Regions from separate parts of the Homo sapiens genome. Here all the other regions are reported to be linked to region 1. Evidence: microRNA targets listed by miRTarBase, many of them from high-throughput screens and not tested one by one. Region 1 holds a microRNA gene; each other region holds the end of a gene's coding sequence.
Evidence for each region. The annotated mature microRNA hsa-miR-4478 reads GAGGCUGAGCUGAGGAG and lies in region 1 at 1,923-1,939, shown strand. An mRNA with a match to its seed (bases 2 to 7 or 8) in the 3' UTR can be bound and repressed. Matches are read on the target gene's strand: a 7mer-m8 pairs with bases 2 to 8, a 7mer-A1 pairs with bases 2 to 7 and ends in A, and an 8mer does both.

Region 1 (3,872 bases):
AACCCTCTCTGAGCTATGGTAGGGAGACCTATCCAGAATTCAGGAAAGCATGTTATAGGCCCAGGGCAGTCCTGGTATTGGGGCAAAGAAGGGCAGGCAACCCTGGGTCACCGACTTGTCCTAGGGGTCCAGTCCCCGGGATTTGGCCTCTTGGAGCCCACTGGGTGGGTGTCTAGGGGAAACTGAAGATGGATCTGACTCAGTTGGGTCCTGGTACCAGCATTTTGGCTTGGGAGTGGGAAAGGGTAATAAAGGACTCTACAGTCACAAGAGCTTGGCCGCTGCCTGGACAGGCAGCCTATGCAAGTCCCCTCCTATCTCTGAGCTGCCATTTCTTTATCTTTCTGAGTTCCACCTGGGGCAGGACCTTCAGCTTCCCAAGTCTCACCAGACCATCGCCTCCCGGGTGCCAGGCTGAGTTGGCTCTCAGGCCCTCTCTTTCCCAGGCGGGCCTCGGGTGGTGCCAGGTGCCGCAGGAGCTTCCGGTTGGTGCAGGGAGCTGGCTGGCGTGGGCTGTCTGAGGGCAACTGTCTCGGTGCTTAGCTGAGGCCTCATCGAGTGGCACCTGTGGCCCGGGCCAGCTGGGATGGGAAAGGGTGGTCTGGCCTCCACCTGCTCAGCTCACTTGCCCTCTAGCCACTCTCACTTGAGCCTCAGCCTCCTGTATCTGCTGCTGCTGCTGGAGCCCAAGGGGCTGGGGCCATGGCTGGGTGCCCCAAAGACAGGAGAGAAGGAGGTGCTGGGGCTTTGCGCCCTGGAGGGGACAGCTAGAGACTCATCAGGCAGGAAGTATCTCCTCTTCTTGATTCTGATCCTTCACCCACCTATGTCAGCCTCACACCTGTACCTGTACACCTGTGGGGCAGCCTTCCCCACCTGTGGTTTTCCCCACTTCTGGAGCCCTAGAAGAATATGTAGAGCAGGCTTGGGGTGTGGCCCCATGGAGCACCCCCAAACTGCCTCTGGTCCCCAGGCTCCGGCTTGTGCTGTCCCTTCCCGCTGTCTGGATTTTGGCCTGTCTGTGGGACCTTGAGGAGCCTGGAGCCTGGAGCTGCCAGCTCGTCTGGGCCCTCCAGGCTCCAGGATCTCTGGAGGCCATGGGTGGGGCTGGTGCTGGCCTTGTTGGTGTTGCTCCTGCTGGAGTAGTGGTGCCCTCTGGCATCTGTGCCTTCCACGGCAGGTCACTGGTGCCATTTGCCATGTGCAGTGGGTGCTGGAGTCTAAGCTCGTGGAAAACTTCCAAGGCCTGGGCTATGGTCCTCATGGCCGTGCGGCCTGCCTTGACACACACAGAAGGGACACATGCACTAGTGTGCGTTCAGGGGACACGTGAACACACCCCTCATATTCAGACAGGTGTAAACAGCTCAGCCACACAAGTGCTGAGCTCCAGCAGACTCACGCACGCAGCCACACATATAGACAAGGTACAGGTGTAGCCAGTGTGTGAACATTGATAAGTCTGTCAAGGCAGATATGTGCACAGTCCAGAACACAAGACGGGTAGAAAGGCAGACCTACAAATGTGCACAGATCCCTGCCAACAAACATGCATATCCATACATGCACATATGCATACACAAGCTGTCATGGGCACACTTACAGGGGAACATGCCTTACTCAGAGCACAGAGCATTTCTCCAGCCCTCCCTGCATCCACTGCAAATGGGGACACATGTCCTATCCCTCAGCAGGCAGGGAAGGGCTGGGGGAGGGAACTTCACCTTTTCTTAGACCCATGGCAATGGAAAGTGGGCACCATCTTGGGTGATGTAGCCAAATGTCTCCTGTTCTGGGAGTCTCGGCACACATAGAAGATTCTGGAGAGGAGGGGGAGGTGCAAGGCATGATCCACTTCAAGCAGCCACCAAGCCCAGTGGGAGCTGGGTCTCTGGGCTTAGCAAGACAAGAGCCCAGGGGCCGAGGCTGAGCTGAGGAGCCTCCAAACCTGTAGACAGGGTCATGCAGTACTAGGGGCGAGCCTCATCCCCTGCAGCCCTGGCCTCTGCAGGGACAAGGGAGAGGAGAGGGTACGTCTGCAGGAGGGATTGTGGATTCAGCCTCCCATGTAGGATATGAAGCGACTCAGGCTGGGAGCAATCAGAGATCCCTGGGTTTGTCATGGCGCTGGGGTCTCCTTAGGACATCAGAGCCAGCTGTTACCTGCAGGGAAACCATCCAGATATATTTAGATACACACATACTTAGCATTGCATTACAATTGCTGACAGTATTCAGCACAGTACCATGCTGTACAGGTTTATAGTGTAGGAGCAATAGGCTATGCCATGTGGCCTAGTTGTGCAGTAGGCTACACCATCTAGGTTCATGTAAGTTTGCCCACCAAAATTGCCCGGTGACACATTTCTCAGAATGTATCCCCATCTTTTTTTTTTTTTTTTTTTTGAGATGGAGTCTCACTCTGTCGTCCAGGCTGGAGTGCAGTGGCACGATCTCGGCTCACTGCAACCTCCGCCTCCCGGGTTCAAACAATTCTTCTGCCTCAGCTTCCTGAGCAGCTGGGATTACAATCACGTGCCACCACACCCAGCTAATTTTTGTATTTTTAGTAGAGATGGGGTTTCGCTATGTTGGCCAGGCTCATCTCGAACTACTGACCTCAGGTGATCCGCCCACCTCGGCCTTCCAAAGTGCTGGGATTACAGGCATGAGCCACTGTGCCCGGTCGTATCCCCATCATTAAGTAACGCATGACTGTGTTCATAAGGTTGTGCAACCGGTTCCACTATGGCGCTCCAGAACATTTTTGTGACCCCACAAGAAACCCTGTGGCCATGAGATGTCACTCCCCATTCCGTCAGCCTCTGCAACCACTAATTCACTGTTCGTCTCCATGGATTTTCGTATTCTGGGCATTTGGTAGGAATGGAATTAGACATTATGTGGCCTTCCGTGTCTGGCTTCTTTCACTTAGCATAATGTTTTCAGGGCCCTGTGCCTCTGGTTTATAAGTGAGGACACTGGCCCAGACAGAGGGAGTGACTGTCCAAAGTCACATAGCAGCCAGGAGTCAGGCCCCTACACAGTGTTGGCTTTTTTAGGACCTCAGCCTTGGTCCCTGGGGTTGTGGGCTGTGGACAATGGAAGAGGTCACACTTCATCTAAAGGGGCAGCTATTACTCAGCTCTGCCTGGGACAGAATCCAGGGGCAGCACTGCCTAATACTAAACACTGTAAATAATGATACAAACGGCCAGGCACGGTGGCTCAAGCCTGTAGTTCCAGCTACTTGGGAGGCTGAGGCAGGAGGATCACTTGAGCTCAGGAGGTCAAGGCTGCAGTGAGCCATGATTGTGCCACTGCACTCCAGTCTGGGTGACAGAGAAAGACCCTGTCTCAAAAAAAAAAAAAAAGTTACAAATAACACCAGCTAACATTTTGCATGCTTCTTTTGTGCCTGGTGCTGTTCTAAAGAAGTGCTGTATAGGCACTTTCTTATTTAATCTCCATGACAATCTTGGTGAAAGTGCTGTTATTATCCCCGTTATGCAGACGAAGGAAGCAGAGCACAGAGAGGTTAAGTAACTCAGCCAAGGACACACAGCAAGCTAGTGGCAGAGTTAGGATTGGAACCCAGGTAGTCTGACTCCAGAGCCCCTGCTCTTACCCACCTATACAGATGCATTCCTTCTTCCAGATTTGTAAAGGAAGGCAGTAATACAGATTTTAATGTGAAACCTCATAAGTTTAAATGTTTCCAAGTGTCGACAACTTATGACAATTGTTTTTTGACACCGTACAGGCTGCAGGGCCTAAGCCTGGAAAGTTTCGTTTAATACAAAGGGAGAGGGCCCTCACCTTTGGTTTCTTCCTCAGCATCACTGCCATTCTGTCCAATACCACTTGGTCAT
Region 2 (3,872 bases), not on the chromosome of region 1:
GAAAACCTTCTGCTTGAAGTCAGACCTCACAGTACATCAGAGAACACACACAGGGCAGAAACCCTTTGCATGTCCCGAATGTGGGAAATTCTTTAGCCATAAGTCAACCCTCTCTCAACATTATAGAACACACACAGGGGAGAAACCCTACGAATGTCATGAATGTGGAAAAATCTTTTACAATAAATCATACCTAACTAAACATAATAGAACACATACAGGGGAGAAACCCTATGAATGTAATGAATGTGGAAAAGCCTTCTACCAGAAGTCACAACTCACTCAGCATCAGAGAATTCACATAGGGGAGAAACCCTATAAATGTAATGAGTGTGGAAAAGCTTTCTGCCATAAGTCAGCTCTAATTGTACATCAGAGAACCCATACACAAGAAAAGCCCTATAAATGTAATGAATGTGGAAAATCTTTCTGTGTAAAATCAGGACTTATTTTCCATGAGAGAAAGCACACGGGGGAGAAACCCTATGAATGCAATGAATGTGGGAAATTCTTCAGGCACAAATCATCACTCACAGTACATCACAGGGCTCACACAGGAGAGAAATCTTGTCAATGTAATGAATGTGGAAAAATCTTTTACCGTAAATCGGAACTTGCTCAACATCAGAGATCACATACAGGGGAAAAGCCCTATGAATGTAACACATGCAGGAAAACTTTCTCTCAAAAGTCAAATCTCATTGTACATCAGAGAAGACATATAGGAGAAAACCTTATGAATGAAATGGATATTAGAAATTTCCAGCCACAAGTCAGCCTCCATAATGCCTCAGAGTATTCACACTGTGGAGAAAGCCCTGATGACATCCTGAATGTTCAGTAACTATCCACAAACTCACCTTATGTTACTCCAAAGTAATAGTAGGGGATAAACCCATAGACTACAACAATTATAGGACAGCTTTTGTTAGGAAGTGATATTCTATGTAATATCAGATGGTTAATACGGGCATAACACCTTACAGATTTTTTTTGAATTTGTGAAAGTTTTTGGCAAAAATGCAAATAAGGTTATGTTAGAATTTACACTGAGGAGAAAATTGTCAATTTAAGAAATCTAAAGTGAAAATTTTGCTTAGAAATAAAATACGACAAGTTATGTTTTGAGTTTGATGCCATAATAGTTTTTAGGGCACCTAACAATAATTTATAGATGTATATTGTGGAATGTAAAGCTTTAAGAACTTAAACAAAGGTAATAATTAAAATAACCTCACAAGAAGTTTAATGAGTAGAGAGAATTCCCATGTACACTTCACCAAACTTCCTCTAAGGATAATGTATAATCATAGTATATGGTCAAGTCCAAGAAATCGATGTTACCTTGCTGGTAGATAGAGACTTAGTCAGATTTTACTATGGTTTGCATGCACTCTGTGTGTGTGTGTACGTGTATGTGTGTGTGTGTGGTTATATCAAACTTTTACGACTTTTACATTTGAGTAACCATCAACACGATTAGTTTACAGAACTGAAAAGGAATCTGAGATCTGTACTGTATCAGGATTACAAAGGATTTAGCCTCAAGTAGTTCCCTTTTTGTATTAATAACCACACGCTTTCTGCAACCCTATCCCTTGCATCCACTTGACTATGAAGTTTTTTTAAAGCACAGATAAATTGAATAATCAGGGCAATAGCATTAAGCACATCTGCGAATTATCCCTGAAGTTCAAAAGACTTATATATGTATAAGTGGTATGTGATATAAATCGTGTGTTTCATATGCATAATGGAATTTAACGTAATTGTGAATAGGAAGTAGGTATCCTAGTTTAGTAGTGGTTACATTATCAGGCCCATCCCAGATGTTTGTGATGTCCTGAAACAATTTAAAAGGAGACCCACAGAGCTAATGTTTATCCATTTAAAAGGTATAAATCAAAATAACAAATTATCTAAAAAAAATCTATCCTGTACATGTGAAGATCTAGGCTCGCCTCCATGTTACTCCCTTTCTCTTCCTACCTGTGGCTCATGCCATGCCATGAAGTGCCTAGGGTACATATGTGAACATTCCAGCCTTCAGCATAAGTGGTAGTCCAAATTTTCTTTAAGCAGCTGCTCTCCAAGACAGGGCCCTGGAAAGGCCCACACATACAGCCCAGGGCTGCCCAGGGCTGTTGGACTGTCATTTCAAGGCTCATTGTCCCCAGACAGGGATCTGGGCCCTCAGACTTTTGAGAATATGAAGAGGAGGGTTGAGGCTGGAGCAGAACCAGAATCAAGCTGGTGTGGGGCTTTTATTGATAGTGTGAAGATTGTACACTATATTACATGATCAGATCATACAAATAATCTAAGATTATACAGTCTAGTGATCCTAGATTACACAAGTAATCTAAGCTTCCACTTTAGGAAACTAGAAAAAGAAGAGCAAATTAAATCCAAAGTAACCTGAAAAAACATTAGAGTAAAAATCATTGAAATTGAAAAGAGAAAATCGATAAAACCCAAAACTGGTTCCTTGAAAAGGTCAGTAAAATTGATAAACCTCTAGCTAGCTTAAGAACAAACAGAAGACAAATATTGCTAATACCAAAAATGAAAGAGGCCATCACAGCTAATCCTATGGTCACCAAAAGGATTAGAAAGAAACATGGACAACTCTGTCCATAAATTTGATAACTTAGCTAAAATGGACCAATTCCTTGCAAGACGCATTCTCTCAAAGCTCACACAAGATAGACCTCAATAGGCATATGTATCTATTAAATAAACCAAAGCAGTAATTAATAACCTTCCAAGGCCAGGTACAGTGGTTCATGCCTGTAATCCCAGCACTTCACTTTGGGAGGCTGAGGCGGGTGGATCACAAGGTCAGGAGTTCGAGACCAGCCTGGTCAACATGGTGAAACCCCCTATCTACTAAAAATACAAAAAATTAGCTGGGCATGGTGGCATGCGTGTGTAGTCGAAGCTACTCAGGAGGCTGAGGCAGAAGAATCACTTGAACCTGGGAGGTGGATGTTGCAGTGAGCTGAGATTGTGCCACTGTACTGCAGCCTGGGTGACAGAATGAGACTGCATCTCAAAAAATAATAATGAAACTTTCCAAAACAAAGTGCCAGGACCAGCTGGGTTCACTGATGTGTTTTTGAGATACTTAAGGTAGAAATGATACCAAGTCTCTACCATCTCTTTCAGAAAATAAAAGCAGAGATAACACTTCCCAACTCATTTTGTGAGGCCAGTATTACCCTAATAGCAAAACCAGGCAAAGATATTACAAGAAAGGAAAACTACAGATCAATATTTCCATTGAACACAGATGCAGAAATCCTCAAAATATTAGCAAATCAGGAATGCAAGGCTTGTTCAACATTTGATATTCAGTGTAATCCATTGCATGCATTAGCAGCTCAAAGATGAAATACGATCATATCAATAGGTACAGAAAAAGCATTTGACAAAATCCAATATCCATTCATGTTAAAACCTCTCAACACAGAAGGAATACAGGAGAACTTACTCAAGTTGGTAAAGAACATACTACAAAAAACCCTACAGCTAACATTATCCTTGATGTTTCCAACTAGACACTTTCCTACTAAGATCAGGAACATGGCAAGGAACACCACACCACTGCTTTTCAGCATTGTACTGGAAGTGCTATATAATGCAGTGTTAAAAAAAAAAGAAATAAAATGCACATAGATTTGAAAGGATGAAATACAACTTTGTTCACAAGTAACATGATTGTCTTTGTAGAGAATTCTAAATAACAAAAACCCTGCTGACATTAATAAGCAATTACAGCAGGATTGCAGGATACAGTCCTCAGGTAGATGATAAAAAGGAATTGGACATCAAGTCATTAAAAGACACGGAGAAACCCTAAATGCTTATTG
Region 3 (3,872 bases), not on the chromosome of region 1:
AGGACACTGGTGCCCTGGCTCAGCCGGAAAGTCAGCCACAGGGGCCACCACATGCGTCCCCCACAGGAGGATTCCAGGCAAGGGTGGGAAGCAGCACGGCAACAGAAGGGGCTAGAAAGGGCCTGGGAGGCGGGGCTGGACCTTCCTGCAAGTCGCAGCTCCACCCCTCACTAACTGTTGGCCCTCAGCAAGCCGCGAGCTCACCGCACCCCAGACTCTAGACCCGTGCAGTGGGAAGGATGACAACACCCACTTCACTGAGCCCACCGCGGCTCAGAGGGTGGCATGCTCCCGCCCCAACAAAGCAGGGGGCTGCACCTCCAGGGGCTGTCCCTCTGGGCACCCCACTCCTGGGTAGCAACTTGAAAGAGGAGGTCTCGGCTGGGCGCAGTGGCTCACGCCTGTAATCTCAGCACTTTGGGAGGCCGAGGCAGGCGGATCACAAGGTCAGGAGATCGAGACCATCTTGGCTAGCACGGTGAAACCCTGTCTCTACTAAAAAATACAAAAAATTAGCTGGGCGTGGTGGCAGGTACCTGTAGTCCCAGCCACTCGGGAGGCTGAGGCAGGGAAATGGTGTGAACCCGGGAGGCGGAGTTTGCAGTGAGCCGAGATTGGCCACTGCACCCCAGCCTGGGCGACAGAGCGAGACTCCGTCTCAAAAAAAAAAAAAAAGAGGTCTCAGCTTGAACTCCTTCCCCCAGAGGGGTTGCTGTCTTGGCGGGAAGCTTCCCCATTAAACACAAAAGAAAGAAAAAACTAAAGACCTACAAACAAACCGGCATCACGCACAGCCTGGCATCACGCACAGCCCGGCATCACGCACAGCCCGGCATCACCCCCAGCCCGGCATCACGCACAGCCCGGCATCACACACAAACCCGGCATCACACACAGCCCCGGCATCACCCGCAGCCCGGCATCACCCGCAGCCCGGCATCACGCACAGCCCGGCATCACCCGCAGCCCGGCATCACCCACAAACCCGGCATCACGCACAGCCCGGCATCACCCACAAACCCGGCATCACGCACAGCCCGGCATCACCCGCAGCCCGGCATCACCCACAAACTCGGCATCACCCACAAACCCGGCATCACGCACAGCATGGCATCACCCACAGCCCGGCATCACGCACAGCCCGGCATCACGCACAGCCCCTCCAGGCTGCCACTGAACTGCAGCCGCCGCCTGAACGTCCTGTATTGTCTCCTAAGGAGCTGCCATCAGGGGACTCCATCAAGGAGCCAGCCATCTGCATATTTTCCAACTAAGGGGCCAAATGGCCCTCCCTCAAATCCAGTGACACTGGCCCGGCTGGTGGCCTCTCATCTTGCTGAAAAGACTGTCACCGTTTCCCCCAATCCTGATTTAATGGGCGGCCTTGCGGGGGCTGTACTTGCCCCTCCCCGGCGTGGGTCCCACACTTTCTTATCGTCCACCTTCATGTGGTGGAAATCCTGCTCCGGAGACCCATGGCTTCTCTCATAAGAAGCGCTCTCCAGGCCGGGCGCAGTGGCTCATGCCTGTAATACCAGCACTTTGGAAGGCCGAGGTGGGCGGATCACCTGAGGTTGGGAGTTCGAGACCAGCCTGACCAACATGGTGAAACCCTGTCTCTACTAAAAATACAAAAAATTAGCCAGGCGTGGTGGCGGGCACCTATAATCCCAGCTACTCGGGAGGCTGAGGCGGGAGAATAGCTTGAACCCAGGAGGCGGAGGTTGCAGTGAGCTGAGATCACGCCAGTGCCCTCCAGCCTGGGCAACGAAAGCAAAACTCCATTTCAAAAATAATAATAATAAAATAAAATAAAGAAGCAGTCTCTCAAGGGTTATCAGTAGCTTCTGAACTGATTTGGGGAGAAATGGAGCAATCAAGTTATCTGTTCAGCTGACTGATTCTGAAACCTGAAACTTCAGTTATGAGTGATTTGTTCCCAGGGCCCCTGTGGGAAGGCCGCCGCGCCCTTGGTCGGGAAAGCAAAGCTCACCACCCCCAGGCCACAGGCTGTTCCGTTAGGGAAGGCAGTGCCAAAGTTTGCCCTGGACTGCCTCGTTCCAGATAGGGCCAACAGCAGCTCACTGGCCCCTCTGGGCCTCAGTTTCCCCATCTGCTAAGTGAAGGGGCTGGAGCAGGTGAGGTGTTTCAGGGCCCTTGTCCCTCGCACCTCTGATATTCAGTGGCTCAAGCATAAGGCAGGACTAGAGACAGTGGCCCAGACCCTGCTGGTGGCCTCCCCCATACGGTTCTTCCTAGCAGTCAAAGCCTGAGTCAAAGGCTGCTGGTCAAGGCAGAGTTTACTGAACTGTTAGTTTCCTCCTGCACACACCGGGCATGACACCTTCAAGTCTGTCCAGCAGTGGGTCCAGAAAGTACCCTGTGTGCCTTGGACGCAGAGGCTACAGTTCTCACTGTGTGGCATGGGAGCCTTCACAGTGCCCTCGGGAGCTGCCCCTGGTCTTTGTCTGCAAAGGTGACTGGGAGGATAGAAAAAGCAGCGGGCTGGCATTGTTTCGGGGGTGGGGTGGTGGGCAGTGTGCCTGGGCAGTCGCAGGGAGGCTGACTTGGTTCTGGGCTGCAAGATCTGTGCATAGGAGGCCCCTGGGTTTCTTCCAGGCTCTTCACTGAAATGCAAAGAGTCTGAAGAGGAGGCAGTGGGCATAGTGCCCCTGAATCTGGTTAGGTGGAGTTTACTGCATTTAAAGGCCCATGGTGAGTGGTGAGTTCTGGGATTTGGGAGATTCCCAGAGGCCTGACAGGCCTGTCCCACCCTCCTGGACTTCACTACAGGGAGCTGAAGTCAGGGCCCAGGCAGGGGAGCAGGCCACCCAGGTAGGGAACAAATGCCTGCCCATGCAGGGCAGAGGGCAGAAGGCAGGGCTGTCAGGGCCTTGGTTGGTCTGGGCACTGGGGCAGGTGGAGGGGAGGCAGGGGTGGAGGAGAGGCAGGGGTGGAGGAGGTGGGGCTCTCCTGGGCGGGTGGAGGAGAGGCAGGGGTGGAGGGGAGGCAGGGGTGGAGGAGAGGCAGGGGTGGAGGAGGCGGGGCTCTCCCAGGAGGCCATCACTTGTCGGCGTGCTGCAGCAGCAGGTCCACTGCCTCTGCGAGGTTGTCCACGTACCCATCAGCCTTCACTTCCGGATGGTGCTCGTCACTGGGCCTGGAGAGGATGGCCGGAGGTTAGTCAGTGCCCCCACGCTGACCCCTCTGCAGCCACACCCACCCTCCCAGCATCTAACATGGGCCTGGCCTTAGCTTGAGGAAACCTCCAGGTCCTGCCAGGCAGCCTGGCCCGTGGCCACTGGCCATCCCCCTCCTCCCCCTGCCCTACTCAGGCACACATGGCCCCTCCTGACTGTGCCCTCAACCTGGACACCTCCCCAAACCTGTCTCCCACTGGGGAGCCTGCTCAGCCTTGTGGTGGAGTGACAGCCGGCCCAGCTCCCTCTGGGCCTCCAGCACAGACATCTCACCTTGGATGGTGGGGACATGAGTGTACCCTGCTCTGGGCTCCCCAGGGGCTCACCCCACACCCCTGGCCTGGCCTAGTGCCCCGTGGGAGGAGCCTAGTCCATGTGCACTGTGGGGACAGCTGGGGTAGAGACTCGGAGCTCCTGCCTGCCCTAACGCTGGGGGCCCGCATGTCAGTGACAGCATGTGTCTTCTGGTTGGTGCCCTCTGAGGCCACGCCCACCCAACAGAGGAGGCACCGGGCTCCTGGATAAACTGCCCTCTGGCTGGGATTCTGGGGGCAGCAACCTCTCCAAAGCCTTCAGCCATTCCCCAGGCATCTCCTGAGGTCTCACTGGATGCTGAGGACACAGGAATGAAGCCATGAGACAGTGCAGAGGCCTCCGGGCCCTGCCAGGGGA
Region 4 (3,872 bases), not on the chromosome of region 1:
GACAAACAGTATAAATGTGATGTATGCGGCAAGGACTTTCATCAGAAGCGATACCTTGCATGCCATAGATGTCACACTGGTGAGAATCCTTACACGTGTAATGAGTGTGGCAAGACATTCAGTCACAATTCAGCCCTGTTAGTTCACAAGGCAATTCATACTGGAGAGAAACCTTACAAGTGTAATGAATGTGGCAAGGTTTTTAATCAACAATCAAACCTTGCACGTCATCATAGAGTTCATACTGGAGAGAAACCTTACAAATGTGAAGAATGTGACAAAGTTTTCAGTCGCAAATCACACCTTGAAAGACATAGGAGAATTCACACTGGAGAGAAACCATACAAATGTAAGGTTTGTGACAAGGCTTTCAGACGTGATTCACACCTGGCACAACATACTGTAATTCACACTGGAGAGAAACCTTACAAGTGTAATGAGTGTGGCAAGACCTTTGTTCAAAATTCATCTCTTGTAATGCATAAGGTCATTCATACTGGAGAGAAACGTTACAAGTGTAATGAATGTGGCAAGGTTTTTAATCACAAATCAAACCTTGCATGTCATCGTAGACTTCATACTGGAGAGAAACCTTACAAGTGTAATGAATGTGGCAAGGTTTTTAATCGAAAATCAAACCTTGAACGTCATCATAGACTTCATACTGGAAAGAAATCTTAGAAGTGTAAATTTGCAAGGTTTTTAGGCAACAGTCAAACCTTGCATGTCATCATAGACTTTATACTGGAGAGAAACCTTACAAATGTGAAGAATGTGACAAAAGTTTTCAATTTCAAATCACTCCTTGAAATACATAGGAGAGTTCATACTGGAGAGAAACCATACAAATGTAAGGTTTGTGACAAGGATTTCGGGTGTGATTCACACCTGGCCCAACATACTGGAATTCACACTGGAAAGGAACTGTACAAGTGTAATGAGTGTGGCAGAGCCTTTGGTGGTCAGTCAACACTTACTCACCATCAAGCAATCCATGGTATAGGGAAACTTGACTAATGTAATGATTGTCACAAAGTCTTCAGTAATATTACAGCCATTGCAAAACATTGGAGAATCCATAATGAAGGAGGTCTTACAAGTGTAATAAATGTGGCAAGTTTTTCAGACATCATTCATAACTTGCAGTTCATTGGCGATCTTATACAGGAGAGAAATCTTACAAATGTGATGATTGTGGCAAGGTCTTCAGTCAAGCTTCATCTTTTGCAAAACGGGAGAATTCATACAGGAGAGAAACCTCACAAGTGTGATGATTGTGAGCAAAGCCTTTACTTCACGTTCACACCACATTAGATATCAGAGGATCCATACTGGACAGAAATCTTACAAACGTCCTATGTGTGGCAAGGTCTTCAGTCCGAGGTTACTCCTTGCAGAATATCATAACGTTCATTTTTGAGGTAATAGTTACAAATGCGGTGAGCACAGCAAACCATCAAGGATTGACAGTAGAGTCAATTCAGAATTGACTTGAGTTTGAGTTGACTTAAAACATTCAGTTGAAGCATTAATTGACATTAAAGTGTTTATGTTAAGAGGATTGGGCCAGGCGTGTGGCTCACGCCTGTAAATCCAGCACTTTAGGAGCCCAAGGTGGATAGATCACTTGAGGTCATGAGTTTGAGATCAGCCTGGCCAACAGACGTGAGTCACTTTTCCCAGCCTGCTTTTTGTTTCTTTAACAAAAACCAATAGGGGTTTTTATAGGTATTGTGTTGAATCTGAATCACATTGGCTTATATAATAACAATATTGATTTTTCCAAACCATCAATGTGGGTTGTATATATATGTTTTTAATCATTTTGGTTAATGTTTGTAGATTTCAAGGTGTGAAATTCTCAGTTTTTTTATGTTTATTCCTAAGTATTTCTTACTTTAAGATCTCTAGCAAATGGAAGTGTTTTTTAATTTTCGTTTAAATTTTTTATTGTTTATGGAAATTCAATTAATTTTTGGTGCTGCTATTGCATTGTGCAAATCCACTGAATGTGTTGATTAGTTCCAGTAGTATTTTGGTTGACTCAGGCCCCGCCCACCTCTTCGCCTCCCGTCTGGCCTGACCCAGGCCCCGCCCACCTCCTCGGGGGTCTCCCCGCGGGTCTGGCTTCTGTACTGTGCTGATTGGCACAGACCCGGAAGCTGATGGCATGGACTGAAGGTTGCCCCGTTGAGTTTGCGCTTCCCAGTTCTCTGGTACTGCTATACCGGGGACGTGGGTGTCTCCACAGACCTGGAAATTCCGGCCCCTCTTTCTCAACTCAGAGCAAATTGAGACGTCCGGGTGGGAGTCCGTGAGTCTTTTCCTTTTGAGTTTAAAGTCGCCCTGAGGCTGGTCCCGTCCCGGTCTTTTCTGCAGTAGGGCCGTGCAGACACCTCCTGTAGCGAAACTTTCCTTCTCAAAACCCTTCCCGACCCGTCCTCCCGCCTCGCGCTGTTTCAGGTCCTCACCAGCGAGTTGGACTCTCGCCCTGGGCTCCTCATCGGCGCCTGGAGGGCAGCGCTGCAGCCCCACTCCCGGGAAGGCCGCGTCCTCTGCCTGGTCCTGGGATCCTGCAGACCCCACCCCTGTCCGAAGGCGCCATCGCCCACCACCTCCCTCCTCGTGCCGGCCCTGCTTCTCCCCAGTTCCAACCCCAGGAAAACGTGCTTCTCCTGGAGGCAACCCTCTTTTTCCACCCTCGCCCTGTTGTTCCCGGAAGGCAGGCCTGGAATGTGAAGTTTCCAGGTAGATGGATATTAAACATAGAATTGAAGAAAAAAAAAAAAACCCCACAAAGTAACAAAAGAATGAAGCGGCGAAAGCAGAAATTTACTCAACCAAGAAAGCACCCCACAGGGTGGGGGTGGGCCCAAGCGAGCGTCTCCAGGGCCCCATTTACAAAGTTTTTGGAGGTTATTTTTTTTTGAGGTCCCTATGGGCTACCCCTTATCTGGATGAAGAATTTGGCCCTTGGCCAAGGAAATAACTGAGGTAAATTGGCCTGAGGCCAGAGCAGATGGGTGCCCTATGCAGATGAAGGGGTGGCCGGTGCTTGGCCTTGGCCACTCCTGGGCTCTTTCTCTTTCCACCTGCGACCTGGTGGAAGGGGGAGGGTGTTAGGGAGAGTAGCCTTTGATCCTTTGTTACTTTGGGTGGGAAGATGGGGTTTTTCCTTTTAGTCTAGTTTTGGAAAGTTCGCGTTAATTGGTTTTAGATTCCCTGCCTCCCTAGACCCAGGACCCATGTGGTTTTTTTTGTTTTTGTTTTTGTTTTTTTGATGGAGATGGGGTCTTACTCTGCTGCGCAGGCCGAAGAGCGGTGACCGGATCACAGCTCACTGCAGCTTCAACCTCCTGGGCTCAAGGGATCCTCCCACCTCAGCCTGCAGAGTAGCTGGGACCACAGCCGCGCGCCACCACACCGCGCCAATTTTTGTGTTCTTGGTAGAGACCGGGTTTTGCCTTGTTGTCTAGGTTGGGCTCCAACTGCAGGGCTAAAGCGATCCAAGAGCATCAGCCTCCCAAAGTGCTGGGATTACAGGCTTGAGCCACCATGCCCGCCTTATTTCTTAATTTAAAAAAAAAAATGTATATGTAGACTGAACGCGGTGGCTCATGCCTGTCATCCCAGCACTTTGTGAGGCCGATTCTCCTCTATCCAGGAGACGGGTTTCACCATTTTGCCAGGTTTGTCTCAAACTCCTCGGCTTAACTGATCCGCTTGCTTTGGCCTTCCAAAGTGCTAGGATTACAGGAGTGAGCCACCACACGTAGCCAGTCCTGGCATTTTGTAGAAGGATGGCCAACGCAGCCTGTTGACCCTTCCTGGCCATCACATGAAAATCAGCGACTCTTCCTTCTTACAAAACT
Region 5 (3,000 bases), not on the chromosome of region 1:
ATTTTATTTTATTTATTTATTTTTTAAGATGGAGTCTCACTCTGTCACCTAGGCTGGAGTGCAGTGGTGCAGTCTCGGCTCACTGCAACCTATGTCTCCCGGGTTCAAGCGATTCTCCTGCCTCAGCCTCCTAAGTAGCTGGGATTACAGGTGCACACCACCAGGCCCAGCTAATTTTTGTATTTTTAGTAGAGTCGGGGTTCACCTTCACCATGTTGCTAAGGCTAGTCTCAAACTCTTGACCTTGTGACCCACCTGCCTTGGCCTCTGAAAGTGCTGGGATTATAGGCGTGAGCCACCATGCCTGGCCTTTATTTTATTTTTTGAGGCAGAGTTTCACTCTGTCACCCAGGCTAGAGTGCAGTGGCATGATCTTGGCTCACTGCAACCTCTGCCTCCCCGGTTCAACCAGTTCTCCTGCCTCAGCCTCTCGAATAGCTGGGATTACAGGCGGCTGCCACTACCCCCAACTAATTTTTCTATTTTTAGTAGAGACAAGGTTTTGCCATGTTGGCTAGGCTGGTCTCGAACTCCTGACCTCGGGTGATCTGCCCACCTCGGCTTCCCAAAGTGCTAGGATTACAGGCGTGAGCCACTACACCCGGCCCAGAGTGAAGTCATTTTTCTATATCATGTTTCACACTTGCTTAATGTGTGGGGGAAACCCCCTCCCCCACATATCTGGTATCAGAAGTGTGAGAGTACACTAGGAGAAACCTCCTGAAGTGCTGGGATTACAAGTGTGAGCCACCATGCCCAGTCTAATGTGTTTCTGTAACTCCAAATCCTCTCTGAAACAAGATAAAGAATAGATTTTAAAATGTTTAAAAAAGACATGCTGGCGGGCGTGGTAGCTCATGCCTGTGATATGGTTTGGCTGTGTCTCCACACAAGTGTCACCTTGAATTGTAATAACCCCCATGTGACAAGGGCAGGGCCAGGTGGAGATACTTGAGTCATGGGAACGATTTCCCCCATACTATTCTCATGGTAGTGAATAAGTTTCATGAGCTCTGGTGGTTTTATAAATGGGAGTTTCCCTGCACAAGCTCTCTTGCCTGCCGCCATGTAAGACATGACTTTGCTTCTCATTTGCCTTCCACCATGATTGTGAGGCCTCCCTGGCCACGTGGAAATGTGCGTCAGTTAAGCCTCTTTCCTTTGTGAATTACCCAGTCTTAGGTATCTTTATTAGCAGCATGAGAATAGACTAATACACTCCTATAATCCCAGCATTTTAGGAGGCTAAAATGGGCAGATTGCTTGAGCCCAGGAGTTTGAGATCAGCCTGGGCAACATGGAGAAACCCTGTCTCTACTAAAAATACAAAAATTAGCTGGGCATGGTGGTGCAGGCCTGTAGTCCCAGCTACTCAGAGGCTGAGGCAGGAGAATCTCTTCAACCCAGGAGGCAGAGGTTGCAGGGAGCCAAGATTGTGCCATTGCACTCCAGCCTGGGCGATAGAAGGAGACTTGTCTCAAAAAACAAAAAACAAACAAAAAAAAAATTAGCTGGGCAGGATGGAGCGCGTCTGTAATCCCAGCTATTCGGGAGGCTGAGGTGGAAGGATCACTTGAGCCTGGGAGGTCCAGGCTGCAGTGAGCCATGATCATGCCACTGCACTCCAGCTTGGGTGACACAGTGAGACCCTGTCTCAATAAATAAATAAAGAAATAAAAAATTAGAAAGGAAAAAATTTTTAAAAAGATAGGGTATTTAGTGATGATCACTGAAGTACTTTGATCAAAATTAACTGATGTGCCAGTTTTTTGACACCTTTATTCATAAGTCAATATATTTGTCAGTTTGAATGTTATACACATGATAAAATAGATTATGAGAAGTATCATATTTACAATAAGAACACTATTTTATATAACTGACTCACCAAATATGCAACCTCTTGCAACAATAACAGAATGGACTCAACTCCATCCTTTGAATAGACCAATTTCATGATTCTCCTAAAAAGTTTTGAGTTGAGTATAGTTCCTTGTTGCTTCTCTCTGTGATCCAGAGCTTAAGAATCAATCCCTGGAAACCAGCCACTGGAACCAGACCTCTCCAGAATTGAGAAGAGACAGCCATAGAAAAAAGGACACAAACCCAAAAGTCTTGAGCGCTGTGCCATATGCTTGATTTCAGAGCATTCAGGCACTCAAGGTCAAGTGTGGGGCCATATATATATATGTCCTGTCATCTCAAATGCCACAACGGCTACAGTTAGCAGGATATCAGAGAGAGGAGGCATATCGTGGAGGAATGAATCAGTCCCAACAATTATGTGAGCATTTCTAAAAATTCAATACCAAGGATTCTTGAAAATACAAGTTTACAGACGGAAGCTATACAGCTAGCCATGAACTGAAGTGCATGTGCAATATCAAGAAGGAGGAGCTGTGCTTAAGAAACCACGCACGTCTTATTTATCTCTAATTTTAAAATAATTCATTCTCTTGTTGGGTATGCAAGTGAGCAGTGGAGAAAGTGGAGCATCTGCAATACCTGAAATTAAAAAAAAAAAAAAGGGAAAAAGAAAATTAAAAGTCATCACAGGAGGATGGATTTGAGTCAGTTTAAAAATGGCTGAGATTAGAGGGTGGATCATAGATGCCCCTCCTCCCTATTAAGTACAGAAGCAGAAGATGCAAGAGAGAGCAGGATGGGCTAGCAGACTAGGGTGATGGGTGAGCTCAGAAGTAATTAGCAGATTATAAGGATGGAATGGAGGCATGTTGTTAATTTTTCTAGCTTATAGAGTAAGCTGACCACTCACCCGCTGGTGCTAAGGATTTCAATGCTTCCAGAAGATGTGGGCTAGAGAACTTTATTAGGCATCGGAGGGGTTCTTCCCTCTCAGCCAAGATGCTCCCATTTAAACCACTTTTGAATTTCGTTTCAAGCTGTCAACAAACATTTATAAATGACTATTAAACATATTGTATAAATACGAATGGTAAAATATAATGAAATCATAATGATACGTTTCATTAATTCTTG
Region 6 (3,000 bases), not on the chromosome of region 1:
TAAGGGAAGGGACTCTTGGCCTGACCTGATTTGTCATCTTTCCCCAGGCCCTGCAGAAAGACGTGGAAGATTTTCTGAGCCCGCTGCTGGGGAAGACACCTGTCACCCAGGTCAATGAGGTGACAGGTACCCTACGGATCAAGGGCTACTTTGACCAGGAGCTTAAAGCCTGGCTCTTGGAGAAAGGCTTCTGAGGCCCAGCCGAGCAGCCTGCTTGTCAGCATGCCCTGTGGATCAAGTCTAGGGGGCCTCAGGAGGAGGGAGGTGGGTGTTGGAGCCCCTGAGACAGGGGATACAGAAACTAGGGCTAAAGGACTTTGGGGTCAGGCCTTGCTTGCATAAAGGAGAAAACAACTCTATGTACATGCTGGGGGAGAGTGCCTAATGTGGGAGACCAAATAGGGATCACCAGGCTAATGGGGGGCGTCAGCAGCTTTCTCTCCCTCCTATCTTGGCCTGTTCTTTTTTGTTTTTTGAGACGGAGTCTCACTCTGTTGCCCAGGGTGGAGTGCAGTGGCATGATCTTGGCTCACTGCAACTTCCACCTCTGGGATCAAGGGATTCTCCTGCCTCAGCCTCTTGAGTAGCTGGGATTACAGGCGCCCACCACCACAGCCTGCTAATTTTTGTATTTTTAGTAGAGATGGGGTTTCACCATGTTGGCCAGGCTGGTCTCAAACTCCTGACTCGAAGTGATCCGCCCACCTTGGCCTCCCAAAGCGTTGGGATTATAGGCATGAGCCATGTGCCTGGTCCACCTTGGCCTGTTTTGTTTTTCTTTCCTTGGGCTCAGCAATTCAAATTCTAGTTGTTATTTGGTGGAAGCAGTAGCCCAACCCCAGTTTAGGGGAAGGTAGCACAGGGCAGAGCCACTGGGCACTTTGTTTCCTTGGCCCTCCGAAGCTCACTGTTGCAAATACCCCCAAGCCTTTGCTCTAGGCCAGATCTTGTTTGGTGCAGGTGATGGAGAACACAGATGACTCGGGCATGGGTCTTGGAGATCTTCTGTTCAAAGTACAGTGCTGGCACTGGGGCACAGAGTGCCCACGTTAGCCCCGGGCTCTGATAGAGAGGTAGGAGGCACGTTCTTGGTCACTGTTCCATTGCAGACCAGACTTGCTGGCCTGACCACAAGGGAGTGGCTGGGAACTCACAGCCAGCATAGGGACATCCCCCTGCAGCCTTCTGACCTGCAATCAAGGCTGGGGAGGGGTTTGCAGGCAGGAATATGCTGACCTTTCACCCTGCCATCCCATCCCAACCCCAGCTCACTAGCCTTCATATATGCCTTATACTTGGAGTCACAGGGGCCAAAGGCCTGAGACCCCACCCTGCCCCCAAACTGGCTAAGACAGCTTTCAGTTCCTGACTCCCCAACTTGGTCTCTGCCCTGAAGCAGGGCACTGAACTCTGGGCTGCTTCTCTGTGTGTAAAATGGGCACATCTTCCTAATCTGTTAATGGTCAGTGGTGTCCCCAAGGATAGTGCTGGCTTCCATGGAAACCCTCACTCCTGGAGATTCCATTCCATTTTCAAGTGTACAGCCACAGCAAGGAGCCCGACACTGATTTGATCGATTCTGTGACACAAACCCCACCAATTGTTAATGCAAGTTTTTATTTGGCTGTATATACAATTTAAGCTATTAAAATTTGTACAATATTTACAAATTAAATAATCATCTGAAACTGTCTCCAACAACTCTTGTAACACAAAACCAAGGGGAAAAGACAGGGGCAGGCAGGTCCCAGCTCCTGTGGTCCCTCCTTGGCACAGAGCCTTTTCTAAACTGGAAAGACCAGGAGTCTGGCACTCCTGTTCCTCTTTCCCGGGATTAAGCATTCAACTTCAAAAGACAAAATTTAAGCCAAAAGACACTAGTAAGGAAGTAATTCCAATTCTAAACTTCAGAAGTTCTGCCAGTTGAGAAGTGGCCTTCCTTGGGCGCTGGGATTGCAGTGGTCAGGAGCAGGCGCACTGGCCCTTGCCTGGAGTGCGGCTGGGCAGTGGCTGCTGGGTGAGACAGGTCAGTCTCACTTGAGAAGCTGCAGAGGAAAGGGGCCTGGGGGGAGGGGCGGGGCAGGGTCCCTCAGTGCTGCCCGCCTGCACCCCCACTCCCAGGCATTCCTTTCCCTGAGTTGTGTGGTTGCCAGTAAGACGCAGAAATGCCACAGGGCATAGGGGGCACAGCCACCACCACAAGAGGCTTCTGGGGAGATCAGGGTAAGAAAAGGAAATGGGTACCAGTCTTAGGGGTGGGCCAGCGAGCAAGTTCATAGCTTGCCTCCAGCCCCTCTGGAGTCCACACTTGGGAACGGGAGCTAATACTGTTCGGCACTGCAGTGTGACTCCGCACATACAAGTAGGGCTTGGAGGGGCAGCCCCTTCTCCTGGAAAGGGGTGGGGGAAGAAGAGGGCTTCTCAGAGGCTAAACCTTCTGCCTTCATGGCCCCAGCAGAACACAGGGCTGAAGAGTTGGAGAGGAAGGCTGGAACTGACCCGAGATCCCCATGGCTGCCTGGGACTGGAGTCAAATGGGAACCCCAGCCTCTTTCCACTTGGCCTAGGGGATGCCGCCTCTTTCTCAGAGCTGGGGGTACTACTCCCTGGTGCAGACAGAGAGGGAGCTGGCACTTGGTGGCAGGACATGTTCCAGCGAGGGCTGCTCAAAAGAGCAGAGGCTGGGGCTGGGCTGGGGCAGTGTCAGTGGGCAACAGGAGACTCCAGCTTCTGCAGGCGGCGCCGGCGGAGCTCTGCTGCATCGGGCTCTCCATCCTCAGGCATCTCCTCTGTGCCCACTGACTCAGGAGCTGGGGACAGAGAGACTGGAAGTGGAACCTAGAGAAGTTCCCTGCTCCCCCGGCTGGAGGCCAATCACACCTACCTGGAGGCCTTTCCATTTCAGGGGCTGGTGGGGAGGCTCCTGGGGTTGGGGTCGTGGCCTCTGAGCTAGGGATGCTGGTGGAGGAGGCAGCAGCAACAACTGTAGTGGCAGTCTCC

Region 2: miRTarBase lists ZNF33A as a target of hsa-miR-4478. The part of its 3' UTR that is shown has no 7-base or 8-base seed match.
Region 3: the mRNA of LHPP is a reported target of hsa-miR-4478. Seed matches in the 3' UTR shown: 7mer-m8 at 2,560-2,566.
Region 4: miRTarBase lists ZNF701 as a target of hsa-miR-4478. Seed matches in the 3' UTR shown: 7mer-m8 at 1,648-1,654, 7mer-m8 at 3,381-3,387 and 7mer-m8 at 3,516-3,522.
Region 5: the mRNA of CENPN is a reported target of hsa-miR-4478. Seed matches in the 3' UTR shown: 7mer-m8 at 1,553-1,559, 7mer-m8 at 1,377-1,383, 7mer-A1 at 516-522 and 7mer-A1 at 50-56.
Region 6: miRTarBase lists MRPL49 as a target of hsa-miR-4478. Seed matches in the 3' UTR shown: 7mer-m8 at 572-578.

The regions. Positions count from the first base shown.
Region 1 is chr9:122,118,214-122,122,085 of GRCh38, reverse strand. MIR4478 (microRNA 4478) reads left to right here and starts at 1,919; the gene lies at 1,919-2,004.
Region 2 is chr10:38,055,717-38,059,588 of GRCh38, forward strand. ZNF33A (zinc finger protein 33A) reads left to right here. Exons shown (of 5, transcript NM_006954.2): 5 at 1-3,872. The coding sequence ends at 844. Among named protein-coding and RNA genes, the nearest start is that of ZNF37A, 37 kb to the right of the region's middle.
Region 3 is chr10:124,612,552-124,616,423 of GRCh38, reverse strand. LHPP (phospholysine phosphohistidine inorganic pyrophosphate phosphatase) reads right to left here. Exons shown (of 7, transcript NM_022126.4): 7 at 2,283-3,160. The coding sequence ends at 3,064. Among named protein-coding and RNA genes, the nearest start is that of FAM53B-AS1, 90 kb to the left of the region's middle. RefSeq lists an enhancer at 2,982-3,492.
Region 4 is chr19:52,582,777-52,586,648 of GRCh38, forward strand. It overlaps ZNF701 (zinc finger protein 701), which reads left to right. Exons shown (of 4, transcript NM_018260.3): 4 at 1-3,872. The coding sequence ends at 681. Among named protein-coding and RNA genes, the nearest start is that of ZNF701, 14 kb to the left of the region's middle.
Region 5 is chr16:81,028,074-81,031,073 of GRCh38, reverse strand. It overlaps CENPN (centromere protein N), which reads right to left. Exons shown (of 11, transcript NM_001100624.3): 10 at 2,777-2,903; 11 at 1-2,505. The coding sequence ends at 2,423. The region is part of intron 2 of CENPN-AS1 (CENPN antisense RNA 1); the gene reads left to right. Among named protein-coding and RNA genes, the nearest start is that of ATMIN, 6.3 kb to the left of the region's middle.
Region 6 is chr11:65,125,679-65,128,678 of GRCh38, forward strand. It overlaps MRPL49 (mitochondrial ribosomal protein L49), which reads left to right. Exons shown (of 4, transcript NM_004927.4): 4 at 48-1,693. The coding sequence ends at 194. SYVN1 (synoviolin 1) reads right to left here. Exons shown (of 16, transcript NM_172230.3): 15 at 2,885-3,000; 16 at 1,601-2,810. The coding sequence ends at 2,704. Among named protein-coding and RNA genes, the nearest start is that of MIR6751, 2.8 kb to the right of the region's middle.